2 separate regions of the Homo sapiens genome follow, and region 2 is linked to region 1. Evidence: fine-mapped expression QTL. A gene starts in region 1. The other region holds a variant in brackets. All regions are shown on one strand. Distances are between the middles of the regions.

Region 1 (10,384 bases):
AGACACCAGAGGGTTAACTAGGATGCAGTTGGGTTGATTATTATGTTTTCCTCCTAGTGCTTTTCTGTTACCTGCAAATTCTGTGCAGTGAACAATTACATTTATGGTCAGACAAAGTGTTAATTATTTTTAATTATTTTAAAGAGCAGCAGCAACTGGGATATGTAGAAGAGCCCTGGGCTCTTGGAATTGGAACTGGAGTATGGAGACCCAGTCTCGCCTCCCAGTTGTGTTACAGGTCCAGTGACTTCACCTCTTTGAATCTCAATTTTCTATAAAATGGAGATAACTGACCCCACAGGGGTAGCATAAGATTAAAAGAGATAATGTATATGAAAAATAGTTGTAAAAAATTTATTATGGAAATTAAAAAACATATACATGAGTAAAGAACACATTATAGGCCAGCGCGGTGGCTCACACTTGTAATCGCAGCACTTTGGGCAGCCGAGGCAGACTGATCACTGGAGCTCAGGAGTTCAAGAACTGGGCAACATCATGAAACCCCATCTCTACAAAAAAAAATACAAAAAATGCAAAAACACAAACAATTAGCTGGGCATGGTGGCACGCGCATGTAGTCCCAGCTACTCTGGAGGCTAAGGTGGGAGAATTGTTTGAGCCCAGGAGGTGGAGGTGGCAGTGAGCCAAGATCGCGCCTCTACACTCCAGCCTGGGTGCCAGAGTGAGACCCTGTCTCAAAACAAACAAACAAATAAACAAAAACACATTATAATGAAGCCATCTTCAACAATTATCATCTTATTTAATCTATATCCCCTGTCCACTTTCCCCCCACCCTCAACTGGAATGTTTTAAAGCAAATCCCAGACATGCTCTTTTTTCCATAAAAACTTCATTACCGAAGTACTTTACACTTTTTAAAAAAATTAATACATGATGACTGTAGAAAATTTGGCATATGAAGAAATCATGTATGAAAGAGAAAACAAAAATCACTAATAAACTCACCACCCAGAGACTACTACATTTTGGAGTAGTTTATTATTTTTTTCTATATACATATTCGTTTTTAACAAAAGTGGGATCATATTGTATATGTTATTTTTAGGTACATTTTATTTTAATTGTAAAAATAATAAAAGCAGATTACAGAAAATAGAGAGGAAATTACCCATAATTCCTTACCACCTAATATAAAACTCTTAATATTTTAGTATTCTTCCTTCTCATTTTTTTCAATTTACATTCATACTCTTAACCCAAGTGGGATCCCTCTGATTATGTACTTTTCAAATTATGAATCTGTTTTAATTGTAAGAAAGTAATATAATCATACTGCAGAAAAAGAAAAGCAAAATAAAAATATTATCCATAATCCCACTACTCAATTATAATCACCGTTAACAATTTTTGGTGTTAACAGTGATTATAATTGAGTAGTGAGATTATGGATATTTTTTCTATGCACATATATTTTAACAAAAGTGGGAACATAATATTTATGGAGTTTATTAACTATAAACTCATATTTACTTATAAGAATAATATTGCATAATATGGGGAAAAGAGAAGAAAATCACTCATAATCCTACCACTCTACTGGCACTGTTATCATTTTGGTATTTTCCAGACTGTCGCTTTCTGTACATATTCATACATGATTGGAAACATAGTGAGTATTTAATTTTGTTCCCTTTGTGCCCTTTGCAGCTTGGCATCATATTTATGCAACTTTGTACCCAGCATTTTTTATTTCATATTTTGTTATGAATATTTTCCTATGAATAAGAGTTTTCAAAGTCAGGATTGTGTGTGTGTGTGTGTGTGTGTGTGTGTGTGTGTCAAGGTACCAAGGGACACACCCTTACCATAGACATTTAGGTTCCTTTTCATTTTCCACTATTATCAACAATTCTGCTGTAAATATTCTTGAATAAAAACTTGTGCTTTTAAAGTTTTTTCTACACACGTATTGAGTATATGTTTCTGGAGACCACTCTGTAAGTTTATAGGCTGACCTGTAAAAAGTGGTCACCTTTTTTTGGTCCCAAATTTACTCCTGTCATATGGCTCAGGCAGTCCTTGGTTCTGGAGGGTGGGATTTTAAGAAGAAATCTGCATTTTTCTCTCTCTCTCTCCTCCCTGAGTTTATAGACCTCCTTCATCCCCTCTCAGTCTGGTTTTAAAATTAATCATTCAGCAAGTATTACTGAATCTGAAGTGTGTGAGCTGAGGCAGGGACGGGAGGCAAAAGGAAAATAATCAGAAGGTCCAGTACGATAACAGCATTTATTGGCCATTTACTACACTGCGGGCACCAATCAGGCTAAGCAACCCCCACAGATTAGGTACCATTGTTATCCCCATTTAACAGATGGGAAAATTGAAGACCAAAGCATGAAGCCATTGGCCTAAGACTTCACCGCTAACAAATGGCAAAGTAGGAATTTAAACCCAGGCCTACTGACCCCTGAACCTGCACTCTAGACAGCCTCCTTACCCTCCTAGGCAGCGGGGATTAGGGCTGAGGGTAAAAACTTTGCAGACAGCCTGATCCAGATTCAAACACTCAGCCACGTGGCTATGTGAACTTGGGCAATTTCCCGAGGCTCTGTTTCATTCACCTTTGGTAAACCCTACCTCAAAGGGCTGTCCTGGGAATTAAATGAGATGATGGATGGGGAACATGCCAGGCCCAGCGCTGGAGCACAGAGGTTCTCGGTAGGTGACCATCCCTGTCCTCTCCTTGCTTCGCAAGCTCGCGGTCTAGTTGCCAAGTTGGAGATAAGAGTTCAGCGGAGAGCTCTGAGCTCTGCTGGAGCCAACGGGGAAGTCAGTGATCAGAGCATTTTTGCCGAGAAATGCAAATGTCTCCTTTGCTCCCTCTCAGCCTCTGCAACTAACCTCCTCTCCCATCTCCCCAAAAAGGAAAGGGGTGGCTTTTGTGCTTCAAAGCTGAGTGCTTGAAGCCCCTCTCGTTCCTGCTCCCCAGGAGGTAAGCAGTGGAGATGACAGGAAGTCACCAGGGGGGAGACCCTTTCTGGCATGTGGGCACAGAGAAATGTGGTGGAGGGCGCTCCTTTTTCTGCCCTTCAATGGTCCGGATGGGGGAGGGGGCTGGCTGTTGAGCAACTGCTCCGGAGACACTCCAGAAGCCGAGATGAACATATGCCTCTTTCTAACAATTGGCCTGGGAGCCATCCAATAGATGGAGGGCGGATCCACACCTCCCGGATCCGGAGCCTGCAGCGGAGAAGCTGCCGCTGTTGCCAGACCTGCTCCCGAGCCAAGCCGGGGCTGACGGGGAGGGTGGGTCAGGGGTTCAAATTAGTAACATGCAATTCGAAAGCCTAGAGTCGCTCATTCTCCACCACTTAGTTTTCGCAGAAACATTTTTTTTCATCCCAGGCAAACACCAAGAGAACTTGAGAGTGTATTTCACACGCGGTTTGCAGTAAGGCTTTAGGGTGCCGACAGATCCCGCCTTTTATCAGAGGGAGACTAGGCAGGGCCCACAATCTGGCAAGCAAAGTGAGAAAGTGCAGCGAAGATGTGTGGGGTGTGGATGCTACCGGGGTTTGTGTTGGGACAGGGTAAGTGAAAAGACTGGAGCTGTGCAAGGCAGCCTTGAGGGCTGGAGAATGGGTTTACCTGGCGACCAAGACACTCGCCCAAGCTTCCTCCAGATGCCGAGGAAGGGCCTTGATCCGTCTCTCCATTTGCTTCCCATCTTTGTGTCGGTAAGCCGGTCAGTCCGTCAACAAACAGAACTTTGTTAGAAGAGCAAATGCAGGGCACTTGGGGCTACTAAAAAAAGAAAAAGAAAAGAAAAAGAGAACTTCAGGTCTTCAAATCCAATTAAGAAGACAGAACACATACATAGTGAAAATGACTTCGTGACATTCCCTCCCCCCCTTTTTTAACATCAGGACCTTTTCTTAAAGAGTATGTTTTATAAACAGTGTAAACTGAGTCGCTGTTGCTGAAAGGCAGCAAAAAAAGAGCGGCGGGGCCGGGGCGGGGTGGGGGGGTGACAGAGGGGTAATCCCGATGGCCTCCCTGTAAGTGGTAAGGTGGGAATTTCTTGGCCACAAAGAATCCGAATTGAGGTGAAGGAGAAGACCCAGACCTCTTTCCAGTAAGGATTTGTAAGACAACATCTCTACCTAAGAAAGACGAACTCCAAATGCAAAACGTTATTCTTGCTAGACGGGAATGATTATGTAGTTACAATAAAACAACCTGACATCGTGGGAAGGCAGGAGGAATCTCCGCGAACCCTGGGGCAAGCTCTTCGTACCCCGTTGCCTACTGTTGGCTTTTCGGCGAGCCTAGTGAGCTGTACCTGGCCCCACGGTCCGGGAGAGTAGCATTTCTCCGGGTCGCATCCTGCCAGCCTCCTGCCCTGGATGACCACAGAACAGAAACCCTCGAACCCAACCCCAGCTCAGAACTTCTAGAAGAGCCACCGCTGCCATATAGGCCCCCCATGCGACTCTGCCCAGAATCTGGCGACTTTAAGAGGAAAAGGAGCCCCCAGCCTCAGCTCTTCAACGAATGAGATAGTACAGCCCCCCCAAAAGGCAGACAGGCTCCAAGACAGCCCTGCAGAAAACTAATGACCATTCCCCCGTCTCGTGTGCGCCCCGCTCTTCCAGGTCACTCCTTGAGCCCACAGCTCTCTCCCAAAACCCCTGAAGCCCGTTTTGGCCCCCGACTAGATTTAGGTCAGAAAACAGACACTAACGGCTCTCCTTTGCCTCAGTGAAATTACTAAGTGGAATTTATTGGGCAAGTCCACGCAGGGCGGTGGGGAGAGCCGGTGTCCCGGGCCCTGGCCCCCGACAGCTTTAGAAGCCGGGCACTGGCCAGGGCTCCGGGCGAGGGCTGCCCATAGCCCGGACTCGCCAGCCCCACCCCGGGAGCCTTGGCCGGTCCACAGGGCTGCCGGACTCGCGTGGCCGCGTGGACTCCGTTCCCCAGCCGGCCCTTTGCTTTCACACGATCCGCGGTGACTGCACCAGCTCGAGCGCCTTTAAAGGGCCACAGACGCCAGCCGCTGCTATAAAAATGTGCCCGGCGGCAAAGCTGCAGAAGGGGCACCGCTGAGCTGCCGAGAGGAAGCTCGCTCTGCCCGGCTGCCCTCTTGTAGTCCGCCGGCGAGGGGCAGTTCTCGGTGAGGAGGAAGAGAGCAGCGGACGGCACAGCACCCGCGCGGGCCCTCCGTGAGTATCCAGTTCAGATTTTGCCACCAACTCGCCCACGAGCCAGGACATGTGCTAATAATGCCCTAAGCCGGTTATAAAGACGTGGAAATTGAGGGGAGAAAAAAAAAGGGAAAAAAAGGGTCTGTCCTTCCTGGGATTCCTAGCCGAGGCCAGTCTGCTGCCGTGTGCGTGTGCGTCAGGGCTCTCCGGGCGGCAATGGGGGCTTGAGAGCCGGGTCCCCAGCGCCGGGAAGGGAGCGCGGTGGCCGCCACCGCCACCGCCCCGGAGTCCGGCGCCGAAGCTGCGGGCGGGCGGGCGGGCACCAGCTCGGTCAGGGGCTGCTTGGCGCGGCACTGTGCGGTGCAGCGGCGGCGCGGCGCGGTGCGGGCTTTTCCCAGGCGCCCCGGGGTCGGGTGGCCAACGGCGCGGCCGCGGGCGCTGAGCGCGACCGGTTCGCGGTAGCGGTGGCGGCGGCGTGCGTGCCAGGGGCTGGGGGCTCCGCCGCCTCTCTTGCGGCTCACCGAGCTCCGCGCTTCCCTCTCTCCAGGGCAGGCGGCTTCTCAGAGGTAAGCCGGGCCGCCGGGCTGGGCGCCGGGCTGGGCGGCGGGGCCGAGGACTCCCGTGGAGCGGGTATGGGGAGTGGGCGGCCGCCAGGCGGGCCGGAGGGTTCTGGGGAGACTTGCTTTCTGTTGGAAAGCTGCTCTGCTGGGGGCGAGGGGCCGCCCGCCCGCCCGCCCGCCAGCGCTCGGGTTCGCTTGCCAGCGCGCCCCCCTGCCGGCCAGCGGGGCCGGGTGCCCGCTTCTCCCGGGGAGACGGCAGCACCTTTTCTCCCTGCGCCCGCGCTTTCTCCAGCTTGGCTTCCACCGACTTTGCTAATCTCCCGGACCGCATCTGGACGCTCTGGCTCCGGAGCTGCACAAAGCTCAGATTTACTTCGGGGAATTGAGGCAAGAGGGGGCTTTTCGGGCCGAGTTCAGCGGAATTGCGGGATGGAAGTTAGCGAATTTGGGCAACTTGCCTCTACTGCCCAGTCGACCTCAGCCCTCCCCTCCCCCGACACACGCCCACACACACACACCCACGCGCACACCCCTCTCCCTATAAACGCGGGCTGGCGAGCCGCGCGCCGAGTCCCTGCTTCGCAGAGCACCGGACTTGGAGTCAGAGAGACCTGGCTGCGAATCCCGGCTCCGCCACTTTCTAGCGCTGTGACCTTGGGCAAGTTACCGCACCTCTCCGAGCCTCTCTCACTCTTCTCCTAGCGGGGTTTTAGCACTGACCGCAGGCGGCTTGGCTAGGGGGTAGGCTCAGCCTGCTGCCGCGTCGGATGCTCAGCGGGCGCTCAGTAAGTGTTGATCAGGCGCGAGAGTGGCAGCAGCCGGCGCCGGAGTGCGGACTCGCCGCGGAGGCCGACACCCCGTGCCCCTTCCTGCCTGTCCATCCTGTCTCTAAGATCAGTTCCTGATACAGCACTTGCGGGAACGGACGCTCAGGGCCCCGGTGGCCTGGGTGCACGCGCCCGCCGTGCAAGGGATGCTCCCGGCCGCCCCCGGTTCCGCGGCTCCATCTGGGATGCGGCGAGGAGGGCAGCCGAGCTGTCCGCAAACAACGGGCCTTTAGTTTTCAGGTGGCGAAACTGACTGGTCTGGTTAGAGCGCGTCCAAGCCAAGCCGCAGTGCTGTTTGGATTTTTAAATTTCTCCTTCTGAGTGAGAAAATAGCAATCGAGATGGAACCATCCGGTTGGTGCCATTTTAACTTTTGGTCCCCCAACAGGTTAAAGATGAGGCCCCCACCTGCCTCTCCCTTCTCTTTTCCCTCTCCCCTTCCCACCCCTGTCTAGGCGGGAGGGGGCTGCTCGCCCAAGGGAAGGCCTGAAGCGAAGAGCGGGCAGCGGGACTGGGAACTGGTGGCCGGGGGGCCGCCAGGCATCAGCCGGCGAGAAGGCACTTGTTGCTCTAGGTTTCCCAGCCGCCTGTCGCAGCCGTTTCGCAGTGGTCAGCTCGCGGCTTGGAGAGCGGGCTGGGACGTTTCCGCGTTGCCAAGTTTTGCCCACGAACGGGCTAGAGGGTGGTGGAGGAGGGCAGAAAGCCGGGGAAGCAGAGCCAGGGATGCCGATGGAAATGCGATTGCTTCTTCAGACGCATTCAACAACACTTACTGAGCGCCTATTGAGCGCAGACCCAGGCTGGGGTCAGGGTGGGTGGTGGGTCAGTAATGGAAGGCAGAAGATCTGAATGGACACAGGGCCTCTTCTGGGGGAGCTCCCAGATTGAAGAGGGAGGCGCGGTAAAATGGTCTTCCCCCACGAACTGATATCAGAATAGAGAGAGTTTTTTTGCTCGTTCTCTCTTTTGATTTTTCTAATGTTTCTCTTTTGGTTTTGCTGTTGTTGCTGCTGCTCCTGTTGTTTTTTCTTCGTTTTGTACATTCGGGTACCAAGCGGCAAAAAGGAGAGGGAAGGCTGGATAGGAACAGGAAAAGATGGACAGGGCCCCCAGACATTTTTCTTAGGACAGGAAAATTGTCTGATACTGATTGTGCTAGGGCTCTTGAAGACGACATGTGTTAGACTTCTTGTCTGGTGATCACTTGCTTTTGAAATATTTTTCTACGGTTGCCTCAGAGAAGGAGCAGGGCTTCAATCAAGCAATGATGCGGGACCCAACAGCTGATATTTTTTCCTCATGTTTTTAAAAAAATGTTTACCCCTTTCTCTATTTTTTCCCTCCCCTACCCCCATCCACCCAAGTAAGCAATGCAAAGATGATACAGAGAGGTAGTAAGTGGCCACTTTCTAGAAGTGTCTGAGCAGATTCTTAATGACCGCTGCGGAGTGGAGAGTGTCACGGAGAATTCTAGCCTCCTTGGAAAGATTAGAGACTCTTTTTAAGGTCCTCAAGATTCTTTGGACCAAGAGGTATTTATAAATATGAAATTCTACATCTCTAATTGATCATGAAAGCTAGAATATATGGGGCTTTTTTTTTTTAAAGAGATAGGGTCCCGCTATGTTGCCCAGCCTGGTATCAAACTCCAGGGCTCAGGTGATCCTCCCACCTCAGCTTCCTGAGTAGCTGAGACTACAGGAGGGTGCTACTGTGCCTAGCTATGGGACATTTTTTTCTTCTTTGTAAACAGGCCTCCAGGAAAATAAGTTGAGATTTTCAGAGGTTTGTTTATTTTCTGGTTTGGAGGTATTCTTTTGCCTTCATTCCCTTATCCTTTGGCACTTGAGCCAGGAAATCACTTCTTTGGAAGCCTTTTGAATCCAGCTAGGTATGATGACTTAGCCAGTGGTCAGGTGAGGCATGTGGCCATAGGGGTGCTAGATTCTGCTCCCAGAACCGCTGCTACCTGACTAAAAAGGCATTGAATCTCTGTGCCTCACTTGTCACTATAGATGGGAATGGCTGGACTCAGGTTTCTGGGGTAGGCATCCTAGGAAAGCCCAATGCTGGGGCTGTCTTGGAGGGGGCTTGAGACATGGAGGAAAGTGACACATTCCTAGCTTCTCTGGCTCCAGCTGCCTCAGAGCCCCCAGACCACCCTAATCAGCCTGGCTTCTCACAGGCATGCCCAAGGTCATGCTTTGGAGCTCCATGACATTTGCGCTAGAGACTTGTTATTTCCCTGTGCTGCAGCCTCTAGCTTTCTAGGTCTTCCTTGCCCTGACTTCTTCTCACATTCTCCCAGTCCCAGTGGAGGCCCCAACTCTCCAGCCTGGATGCTAGTAGCCCATTGAGACAATATGTTGCTTACTCAGGGACATTCCTGTCCTCTGAACCAGGAACAGTGCCACCCTCACCCCCACACATACACCTTGGGACTGTGAAGTCACTTGCATGAGGAAGCAGTATGTCCCATCTTGGTGATATGGGTAGGTGGCTGCCTGGGCAGTACCTGGCCGAATCAAGCACCTTTCCTGCCTCAGGCAAAAGTTCCAGCTTGATCTCCTCCCTGTGCTCGGGTGATCTCTGGTCTTGATTCTAACTCAGTCACCATCCTTGCCTCATAGCTGCGTGGCATTGCCCTGCTTTGGGCTTTGCTAGTGCTTTGTTGGTCAGTGAAGCCTTTTGCCCTTACCACTGCTTCTTCCTCACTTGCAGCACAACAGCTCCAGCTGGCAGCATCACTTCCCGCCAATTTATCCAACTTCTGCCAAGGCTCTGAAATGCCAACAACGTCGAGGCCTGCACTTGATGTCAAGGGTGGCACCTCACCTGCGAAGGAGGTAATTTTTGCCATTTTACAGATGAGGCAGGGAAAGACAAATTTTCCGGGGTCATGGGCCAGGCCCTCCTAGGTGCATTACCCAGTGTCCTTGAGCAGAGAGGAGACAACAGGACTATCTCTGGGGAGAATGAGAACAGCTTCTGCCTAAATTGTGGTCAGATTGAACCCACTAGGGGTGTTGAAAGATGGCAGGGAAGGGAGCAGAGAAATTGAGTAGGAGCAAAACCACTCTGTTGAAGAGACTAAAGTGAGGCTGAGAAGAGGGACAGGAGGTGCCCTTTTTAGGATGGTGAGGTGGAGGCTATGGGGAAGGAGCTGAAAGCAGTGAACCCACTTAGGATGGCAGGTGCTCCAGCACTGTAACTGGGCTCTGGCCTCAGTGCTCAGAGCCATGGCAGCAAAAGGATGCTTGAGGTGGGAGCCTAATTTTCAAGGGGGTCGTCTTGCTACCTCTCCACCTCTAGTCCCAAATGAAGTGCAGGTAGGAACCTTCTAAATCTGCTGAATGGTGAAGGACAAGCCAGGAGCAGGGTTACTATGGTGTGCTTTTCTCTGTCTTCTAGGATGCCAACCAAGAGATGAGCTCCGTGGCCTACTCCAACCTTGCGGTGAAAGATCGCAAAGCAGTGGCCATTCTGCACTACCCTGGGGTAGCCTCAAATGGAACCAAGGCCAGTGGGGCTCCCACTAGTTCCTCGGGATCTCCAATAGGCTCTCCTACAACCACCCCTCCCACTAAACCCCCATCCTTCAACCTGCACCCCGCCCCTCACTTGCTGGCTAGTATGCACCTGCAGAAACTTAATAGCCAGTATCAGGGGATGGCTGCTGCCACTCCAGGCCAACCCGGGGAGGCAGGACCCCTGCAAAACTGGGACTTTGGGGCCCAGGCGGGAGGGGCAGAATCACTCTCTCCTTCTGCTGGTGCCCAGAGCCCTGCTATCATCGATTCGGACCCAGTGGATGAGGAAGTGCTGA
Region 2 (10,384 bases), 170 kb after region 1:
TGTTTTGATATGCTGCCTGGTGCCCCACTTCAACTCTTGATGGGATTTTTTTGATACAAGGAATTCTGTGAAGGGTTAAATGTCTCTGACTATAGACAGAGCTAAGAGAGAGCAGATGGAGCCACAATAGGCCAAGTGGTTGCTAGGAGACGAGGGGCCTCTCACTCGGCACCTGGTCCTCCTCTCCCCTCCCTTCCTCCACTTTACCCAACGATGTCAGTGAATTTGAGATGCGAGGCCCTGGACTGCGCTCACATATGTGGGTATCTGAACTTAGCCTCCAGGTGCAATTCTAATGGCTGCTTAAAGGTAGCAGTTTTTCTTATTTTTAATTTTTTTCTTTTTCTTTTACAATTAGGATTTCAATGTGGAATAGCAGGTTTTCTTTAAGTACAAAAAGGGAAGGCAATTGCAATTAGAATTAAGGAAATTGGTGCAGACCTGTGTATCACAGTAAATAAATCTTCAGTTGTGCGTGAAGCCACAAACACGTCATCATCATCCTCTGCAATCCATTCAGCTGTTTTATCACTGATTAAACTTTTTTCTTCGGTGCCTGGTTCCACAGAACTCCCTAGACATAAAAAACCAAAAGGAATGACTTTGACCACAGTAGATAGGACAAAGCACATTCTCATATGTTATTTCATTTGATGGTGAAAGCAACTCTGTGAGGGCAGCAGGGTGGAGATTTTTAATACCTCCATTTTGCAGAGGAGGAATATGAAGTTCAGAAGCTTAATGATTTGCCCAAGGTGGAGTGAGTGGTGAAGATCAGCGTGGGTCCCTATTCTGTCATGTCTTTGTCATTATAACAGGTGGCCCGAGCATTCTCTTGTTTTAAACACTGTATATCATTTCTCCAAATGAAGGAGCTGGGAGTGATCTAAACTAGTGACTCCCACCCAGTGGGTGAGAGTGGAACCTATTTGAATCTCAGAGGGGAGCCTGTGGAGTCTGAGGAAGTGTTTTCTACAACTACCTGGGGCTTTGATTTATTTACTTGACTTAGTCATAATTGACTCATATTGAAAGTCCAAATTTGCATATAGAAGGCCATGAGATTTTGATTTTTGGTGTTAAGGGTTCAGAAAAGAATGAGAAACATGGATGAACCCTGACAACATTAAGCTTAGTGGAATAAGCCAGTCACAAAAAGACAAATACTGTATGATTCCACTTATATGAGGTGTCTAGAGTCAAATTCATAGAGACAGAAAGTAGAATGGTGGTTGGAGGGAGGAATCTGCGGGGAGGGAGAAGGAGGAGTTGTTGTTTACTGGGTACAGAGTTTCAGTTTTGCAAGATGAAAGGAGTTCGGGAGATTGGTTGCTTAACAATGTGAATGTGCTTAACACGAATGAACTGCACACTTAAAAATGGTCAAGATGGTAAATGTTATGGGTACTTTACCACAATTAAAACAAAAAGAGACAGAAAAAGAAAGGATGAGAAGCATTATGTATTATGTTTATGGTTCCAGGAAGAGCCAAAGAACTCAAACCACCCAAGAAAGTGAGCTCCCTTTCCTCCGGAAGGCACAAAAAGAGGCTGCTGGTGGCAACATATTCCGTTGTTTCAGATGGCTCCGAGCCTGCCATGGCACTTGAACTCAGTCTGGTGGGGTACTGGGTCCCATGTAGGGAACTAAATTCACTGCAGCCAATGAAAAGTACTGTACAGTGAGGTGGAGTAGTTCCCAAGACAGGATGCATGCTTGGCTAGGGATGTGGGATGCTGAAGTCCTAGGGTGCTAGAACCTAGTTTGATTTCATTATCTCAGCACTAGAGATTTAGAGGGGAGAGTGGCCTAAACTGGGCCTTGGAGATCTGCCTCGGGCTAGTCTTGATCTCAAGGGCAGTAAGGCCAGCCCGTGGTTCCTATTTAGAGTAACTCAAACCCTCAAAGGGTGCCCGCTACTGACTTGGGATCAGGATAATTATTCTGGGGCATCTGCTTCCATCTCTGGCACTCCATTCTCACCCTCATCTCTCCTGTGACTGAAGGAAAAAGCCAGCAGACAGTTTACTAACCCAGAGGGCTTGCCTCCCTTTCACTGTCAGCCTGAGGAGTTGAAGTCACCCTTTGACCAAGTGATTGCAGGTCATCGCCGGTGGCGGGACACTTGGTGTCTTCCTCCAGGGTGATGATGGGGCTGAGAGGCAGCCTTGGTTCTGCCACATAGGCCTCCATTTGAGCTGTGGGAGAAGTGAGAGGCAGGTACAGCACGCTGGGTTTTTTTGGTACGGGAGGTGGAATCTTGCCTTTCTTTTTCTCAGCTTCTTCCTGGCTCTGGAGGCTAATTCTTTCAGGCAGAACCCTCACCTTGGGGCCCTCGTCCTCTACACTTCCCTGGGGAGGCTGCTGTGTTCCTGAGAAGAAAGCATCAGAGGAACTGGCAAAAGGCGTGAAAACAAGAGATGAGGGTGCTGTTGACTCCCCTGGGCTTCTGCCATCTGGGAAGCTGGAGGGCTTTGGTTTCCGCACTACCGTGTAGCTGTCTTGAGGGAGTGGTCTCGCATGTTGAATTGAGCTCCTGGGGGGCATAGCCAAGGTTGGTGAAGTTAGTGCATACTCCTCAGGAACAGATGGTGGCTTGTGGACCAAGCTTGGAGGCCTCCGGGCCACCGGAGGCTTCTCAGCTACGGGAGGTTTTGTCTTTCTCTCTGGCAAGGTGAAGACTTCTTCTGCTCTGGGTTCCTCGGCATACTCAGGGCTCTCAATATCATCTTCCGGCTCAGACTTGCTGACCGACCTCAGGCGAACAGAACGTAGGTCGGACTGAGTAACCATAGGCATGATTGGCTGGTTGGGATTAGTTTTCTGGGCCAGCTTGACGCCAAAATTTGTCTCTGAGTGGTGCCGACTCACCTTAGTTTTGCTTCGGATGGAGATACTCATCCCAGACAGATCCAGGTTGGGTGAAGAGGTCAGTGGTAGGTCAAATGATAGCCGTGACTTGGGAAATTTCTCCATTGGTGACGTCGGGGGTAGTGATGACTTCCTCTCAGGTACCACTGGACGTACCCGGACACTGCTGCTTGGAGGGGGTAAGTGGCCCAGGGTCAGGGACATGGAAACAGTGGGTGTTGGTGTTTCCGACTGGCTGGAGTAGCCACTGGAGGGTGACATCAGTCCAGGGGGCCTTCCCGGGGATGATATCTCCCTGGCCTCCACTTCAATGGAGAGTTGGGAAGGTGTAGTGGCTCTGGAGGTGGAAGGTGAGGCAAGAGACTCTGAGCTGCCCTGAACTTGGGTGCACTCAATGACTGTGGTGCCAGTGGCAGTGCTGGAGCTGGACAGGGATTGGTAGGTGTCACCAGACTTCCAGTCAGTAAGATACCAGTGGTGGGAGAATTGTGTACTTTCTGGATCTTTGTGGTTTGGAATAGCTGGGTGACCCTGAGCATCTGGGTGGGACGAGTGATGTCCTTGATGTTCCAAGGAGAGGCAAAGGCTCTTGGGCCTCTGGTCCTTGGGTAGTGCTGACCCACCTTCAGGCAAGAGGCCTGGCTCATCTTTGACCAGTGAGACACTGCGTGTGGGTGGGGAAGGCTTCTTTTTGGCCTTCCTAAGTGAGATACTCTTGGACCTCTGCCTTCTGTGCTGGGCCTCTTGCTGGGCACTAAGGGAGGCAATGTTGTCAGCACTGTTACTGCCCTCAGAGCTCGTACTGGCAAAAGGCAGGGCACAGGCCTCATTGGCCTTCTGCTCCTCATCATAGTCCACATCTGTGGTGCCTGAGTCTGTGGGCACAGACAGTGACCGCTCCCGGAATCTGCTGGCCCCACCGGGGCCTGTCTCCAGCCTCGAGGTCCCACTGGTCAGAAGGCCAATCTTGGAGGGTCTTTCGGGCATGTGCCTTTGCTGAATAAGGCGCTCAGGGTAGCCAGCTGACCCACTGCATCCTGCTGGGTTATCACGAGCGACAAGGAGGGTAGCAGCCTCCTTAGGAACCAGAGGTGGGACTTTGTTTAGAGAGACCCAAGAATTCCCACAGGAAGGATTTTTCCCATTTTCATTGACTTGATTGCTCTGGCTGGTGGCACTTGGAGTCATGTAGGTAAAAGCATCTCCCTTCCAGGAAGTGGAGAAGGTTGATTCTGTAGGTCCATTGCAAGAACTGGGGACACTGTACACCATTCCCATGCTCTCCATGCCAGGAGGGTTTGGGCCACTCCGTGCCTGGTGAGGTTCGTCCGGCTCACTGGAAGGAGTTCTCAGTACTGGCGAGGTGAGACTTGGGAACCGAGCATCCTGACCAACTGCAACTCTTCCATGAACCCCTTCTGGAACTGAGTGACTGGGCCTGATGTCGGAGGTGGTAGAGTGGGCCACACTGCCTGCTGGGCTGTTGCTGTGACCTGGAGGAAATAAACACAGGACATGAGTGCTACAGCAAGGGATCTCCCACCAGCTGTTTTGAGACAGGAGCACCAACTTTTTGCCAAGAAGCATTTGCCAACAGCTTGGTCAGAATTCCTTGGTTCTTCCCTTCCATGGATGAAGATGCTGGGGAAATTGGGTCCTTGCCCATCACCCCACAGTGAGACATACGGTGCCCTTGAATGGTCCAGATGGCTGCCAAATACTTTCCAGCTTTGATTATTCCTCTTAGAGCTGAAGTGTCACGTGGGATTACCTTGCATTTTCCCCATACTTTCACCCCAGGCTCATGAAACCATCACAGACCTCAGCATTCATCCATCTAGAGATGAGAGTAGAGGCTTCCGAACTAAGGACGGCATGGTGTGACGTTTGGCTCCAGCAATGACTCTGGAGCATGCCCAAGATGCAAAGCTAAGAGTCTGGTTGCATTGTTCGCACCCATCACTTTTAGGCTTTGCAACATAAGAGGCTGAGGATAATCTACGGATGTGAGGAAACCGTTTGGATGTTCCAAATCCCCAAAGGTTTTCTCATACACACAAACAATTAATACTGTCATGTCATTATTATTATTATTATAACTACTACTGCTATGAGAATTTGTAACAATAGCCACCATTTATTGGACACTGACTATGTACCAGGCACATGGTAGGCAAGTTACATACAATAACGCTAATCTTCATGCTAATTCCACCATGTCAGTATCATTATCCCCACTTTATAGATGAAGAAGCTGAGGCTCAGAGAGGTTATGTCACTTGGCCAAGGTCTCCTGGTTAGTAAGCGGAAAGACCAGGGCTCTTACCCTCTGCTATCTCCCTGGTCTGTGCTCCTGGCCAGCATTCACTTAATGGTAGTAATGGTTCTGTTAAGATGATGGTGAGGAACCCTCTCTCTTCATCTATTTGCCTAAATTTGGCATATCTGGTTGTATTACATTTATAATGGGAAACAATAATGTAATGGATTCATTAGCCCGGAAGACCTACTCTCCATATTCAGTTGCCACCCTTGACAAGAGGCCCTTAGCTATTCTTAATTACCATATTGGCTTTTTCAGGACATCCGGAGGCCCCCTCCTCCACCCAATTATTCCTGTTCCCCATCACCACAGTACCACCTGGGTGGCAGGATTGGCAGGAGTGGGTAAGGGGAAGGGACTGGGGAATCAGCTGTGGTGGGGTCACCTTGGTCTCGCTGGGAAAAGTTAGAGAATCCAATAATGGTCCGCCTCCGCCTCAGGGTGGACTTGGGGTTCACGGCTGTCTCTGTGTTAAACAACGAGTGTCGCAAACTTGCATGTTTATCAAACTGCTGCCCTGTAGCCAAAATAAAGACACTTGGGTGCATCCTGGTTTCTGTTTAAAGCACGGTGGAAATTGGCCTGAGAGAAGAGAATGATGGCAGTCGTGATAAGCATGAATAGCATCCAAGGCAGGTGGCACTTCTTCCTCATCCTTCCCAACTTGGCCCTGGGAATGCATGCTGGGTTTCCCAGGCTGCACCCAGGTTGCCTGTAAGTTTTAGGTGG[C/A]CTGGGGCAGTGGTTTTCAACCCTGGGCTACATATTAAACTCAACTGGGCAGCTTTTGAAACTGCAACACCTGGACCTTACCCCAGAACACTGAAATCTCTGGGAGTAGGGCTCAGGTAGAAGCATTTTCTAGAAGTCTTCAAGTGATTATTCAGAGGTACAGCCAGGGGTGAGAACCACTGGTGTAGAGCAGCGGACTGGGACTAGATGCTGCTTGACTGTGATCTTTTCTCAGAGAAGGCCTTTATATGGGCCAGGTGAGGCCAGTGTCTCCAAGAGGCTGCCCTACTGCCCTCCACCATCCAGGAAGATGCCTGATAGTCTGTCCTACAGTCACCTGGTCACATTTTACCAAAGCTGGCTCACAGCATGGTGATTGAGCTCTATTTCTTTCTCTTTCTCTCTCTCTCTTTTTTTCCTGGCACTGGCTTTTCAATTTAGGAAAATTATTGACACAGATTATAGTTATCACTTCATCTGAGTTACATGGTACTTTCAAAATATCTGTTAATTCAGTTTGTTTACTGACTTGATAATGTTTTCAAATTCAACACAATTAAAATGGAATATTTCCTCAATAATATGCCTTACTTAATATTATTAAAAAAATTTTTTAGAGCTGTATTTCTCTTAAAGTGCTAGGTCAGTCTTTGGGTGCTGGGAAATGGCTGGGTCAGAGTCAAGGCAAGGCAGGGTGGTGGGGCGAGGTCTGTGATTCCCCCTCCCTTTCTCTCATTCAGCCAGCCACACAGCTGCACACGTTCACAGACACCTCAGCAAGTGGCTCTGTGGGCAATGCTCAGGGACAGCCTCATTGAGAGGAAGACAGACATTTATTTATTTATTTAGAGACAAAGTCTCACTGTCACCCAGGCTGGAGTGCAGTGGTGTGATCTCGGCTCACTGCAATCTCTGACTCCTGGGGTCAAGCAATCCTCACATCTCAGCCTCCCGAGTAGCTAGGGCCACAGGTGTGCGCCACCACGCCTGGCTATTTTTTTGTATTTTTGGTAGAGATGGGGTTTCACCATGTTGCCCAAGCTGGTCTTGAATTCCTGAGCTCAAAGGATCCACCCACCTCAGCCTCCCAAAGTGCTGGAATTACAGGCGTGAGCCACTGTGCCTGGCCAAGATAGACATTTAGACACAAAATGTTCAACATCACTTCTGGAGTCTTTCCTCATCAGCCCTCACTCCTTTTGGTATATTTCCCTAGGCTGTGGGCTGTATTTCCTGCCTCTGATTTTCTGAAATGATGCCAGTGACAGTGGAGGACCCCATATCCAGGGAGCATTGCCACATGTGGCCAGAGCTGTCCTCATCATCTTCATCAACATTTCCCAGCAGAGCACAGGCTGGCGCTGGCTCACAGGACCCCTCTGATCCCTTTAGGTTACTGAGATCATGGTTTCATCATGTCGCTGGCCCTATCTCCTTCTCAAATGACTGGCCCTCCTTCTCTTCCCCTTACAGCTGATGGAGTGTAGATCATGGATTAATAGTGAGCATGGTATAGTGTGCCACATGCCCCCAGAGCCACAGCCAGCTGGGCTACATATAATACAGCACGTTCCCCACTCTTAAAATTGTACTGGGTCCCCTTTTGGTCTTTTTGGCCTTAGGACCTTTCTACCACTTCTTTTCTTGAAAACTTGCCAAACAAGTTGAAGAAGCCCACCTTGCTAGAAGACTAGTGTCCAGTGAAAGTGCTACCAGGCCTTTGGTCTGTGCCCAGGTGTACTCCTCCCTTGTTACCACCAGCACTCCAAACCCCACTCTCCTGCTCCGACTCTTATCAGTGTACTCCAAACCCAGCTCTGGGCACAAGAAGTTGTCTTGCCCTGACCCAAACAGAACTCACAAACTTTAAGTTTCCATAAGTGCTCTGAAGAGCACAGAAGTTCATAAGGCTTTGGAGCTTTCTGTTAAGAAAATTTTGCTTGCTATCAAATGGTCTCAGTTAGGGTGGCAGTGCCAGGAGGGGGTGAAGAAAGAGCAGCCAGCGCCCCCTCTTCTGCATGCCTCCGTTCCCTGGCAAGAGCCATGACCGTGACAGCGCAAGGTGAGCCGGTAGCAAAGAAAGTCTCACTTCCCTCCCCCAATACCCAGTGCATCAAAGAGGATGGTCTGTAGAGGCATGAAGGGAAGAAGACAAAGGCGGTGCTAAGCAACTCTACCAGAGATGTTGATGGGCACAATGTCAGACTGCGTGGAGCAAAGCTGAGGCCACCGCTTCTCCTCTAGGATGGGCAGAGGGAAAAGGCTATTCCAGGCAGTTTGCTTGTCGGCTGTGGTAGACAGGCTCAGGGAGGCCTCGGGGGCCCTCACACCCTGGGTGGTAGTCTCATCCTCGCTCAGCTGCCGTTTTGTAGGCTGTTGGGAGAGAAGGTGATGGAAAGGGTGTATTCCTGCCTGGCAATGAGCCAGTGCCCATAGGGTGGCTGTTTAGGCTGGGTAGTTGGAGGCTTCGTCTGGGAGGCAGGAAAGCGTGGACAGGCCACCAGGCCAGGCACCTGCTGTGCAGGGCCTATCCCAGTGGGGCCTCAGGGTAGCTCTGCTGGTGAGCAGGGCTGAGCAGCTTCCAGTGGGTAAAGTAAGCAGCTGGAGGTCTCTTGTCAGTGGGTGCATGCTGGCTCTCCCAGGTGGGGGATGAGGCAACTCACCATCAATATAAACTCCAGACGCCTGGCAGACTGGGGCCTTGGGTTGGGGGTGGGCTTAGTGGCCTCATCAGAAGAGCGGAAGGTCTGCCCCACAAGTCTGGCCTCCGAGTACTGTTCCTCATATTCTTCTGAAAAATAGCACAGTGGAGACACACACTCTAGGGTGCCATGGCCGAGCGCTGGGCCGGGGAAGGGCCATGAGCCAGGACTCCTGCTCTAGCTGCCAGGCCTGACTTGCATTTTCTTTAGGCTATTTCCAGGTGTTTGAGCCACTGGATTTGGAAATGGAAAAGTGCTTGCTTCCCAGGACCATGAGGATCGAGGAGAAGAGAAAGTCAATAAATTCATGCTGTGGTGGTTTGGGGACCAAGCCCTTATCTCAATGATCCCCACCTTGAGTGCTCAGTTACGAAAAGAGGCTCAGAATGCAGACACCTTTTGCTACTTTGGACTGCAAGTTCCTCTCTTTGAAGCCCTGCAGCTCTTAAGGTTTTCTGCGACCCTACCAAGGAAATGACCTGTGTGAAGCAAGAAGAGATTTACACCAGGAAGTCCAATCTGGAGTTCTTTCTTGGATGTCAAGAACTTTTACTTGAGCCTTTGTGGGCCGTGTTCCCTGCACCTTAGTCCCGCTGTAAGTGATGTCAGGTCTAGGAGGGCTAAGGTGAAGGAGAGGGAAGGAGGAGGTAACAGCATAAAAGAGGCAGAAGTTCAGCGGCATCATCAGTGAGTAAGGATGCACAAGATTTGAATAGGGTTGATTGAAGTGATGAATTTGATGAGAATACATGAAGAAAGTGAGAGTAGAGAAGGGACATTCATGCTGTATGTACACTGAACAAAGACTCAGAATCACAGAGATTTGGGGTTGCTCTTGGGGTTCTTTGGTCCAACGCCTCATTCTGTGCCCAGACTCCCTCCTCAGCAGCCCTTCTAGGTGTTTCTTCAGCCTCAGCGCACACACCTGCAGGGAAGGGGAGCTCCCTCCCTCCCAAGGCAGCTCATTTCTTCCACGGACAGTTGGGGCTGTCAGGTGTGTCAGAAAGTTCTTCCTTATCTGGAGGTGGAATGTGCCTCCTTCTGGGTTTCCACCCACTGGTCCTAATTCTGCCATGGTAGCAACACAGAGCACATCGACTCTTTTTCTGTGTGGCAAGTCCTTTGTTATCTGAACACAAGGCTCATGGTGTCCCTTGGCATCTTGCTTTTCCAAGGTCACCACTGCCCTGGTAGGGGGTGGGGGTTATGGCTGTCATCCTGTTGGTGGCCCATCAGCAGTTTTCTATTCGCCATTAGAGTTAACCTTTATTAGTATAGATAAAGGAGTGCTGACAAGACCTCTTTTCATGCTCAACATCCACTGAGCACCTCTTGGCAGGTGGGGAGGGAATCCAGCCTTGTGCCAGGTGCTTCTGGAAACCTAAGGGTAGCAAGATGTGATTCTTTACATCGAGAAGCTCAGGCTTGGTTAGGGGGGACAAAATAGGTGACCTCTGGGTGCTGTGTATTGGGCTTACTTTGGTGAGGCAGTAGCTATCCAGGGGTTATTGCAAGAGCAGAGTGAGTGAAGCCCAGAGTGGGAGATCCTGCAGATGCCCCCTTTGTCTTCTGGTGCCAGGATCCCAAAGGCATGGGCGATGTGGCAAGAGGGGGGCTGGAGGGAATGTAGGCCCACATTGTGGGAGTCTCCCACCCAGCTCTCGGTGAATGGCATAACTTATGGCCCTGCCTCAGTCTCTGTCCTTGTTTCCCCATGGGCTACTGAGCTGAAAAAAGGGGCTGGGGATGGGGGGAAAC

What was found. PIP is the estimated chance that this variant, and not a neighbour inherited with it, causes the effect.
Region 2: its variant is fine-mapped to the expression of CITED1 in testis (GTEx, PIP 0.94).

The regions. Positions count from the first base shown.
Region 1 is chrX:72,301,830-72,312,213 of GRCh38, reverse strand. It overlaps CITED1 (Cbp/p300 interacting transactivator with Glu/Asp rich carboxy-terminal domain 1), which reads left to right and starts at 6,300. Exons shown (of 3, transcript NM_001144887.2): 1 at 6,300-6,389; 2 at 9,280-9,404; 3 at 9,970-10,384. The coding sequence starts at 9,345. It overlaps LOC105373250 (a long non-coding RNA gene), which reads right to left and starts at 6,112. Exons shown (of 3, transcript XR_938441.2): 1 at 5,994-6,112; 2 at 3,616-3,771; 3 at 473-512. RefSeq lists enhancers at 3,051-3,100, 2,827-3,328, 5,245-5,294 and a silencer at 5,021-5,315.
Region 2 is chrX:72,132,422-72,142,805 of GRCh38, reverse strand. NHSL2 (NHS like 2) reads right to left here. Exons shown (of 8, transcript NM_001013627.3): 3 at 8,588-8,715; 4 at 8,102-8,297; 5 at 5,581-5,712; 6 at 2,035-4,365; 7 at 442-574. Among named protein-coding and RNA genes, the nearest start is that of RTL5, 5.7 kb to the right of the region's middle. RefSeq lists an enhancer at 847-896. The variant C/A (reference allele first, on the strand shown) is at 5,925.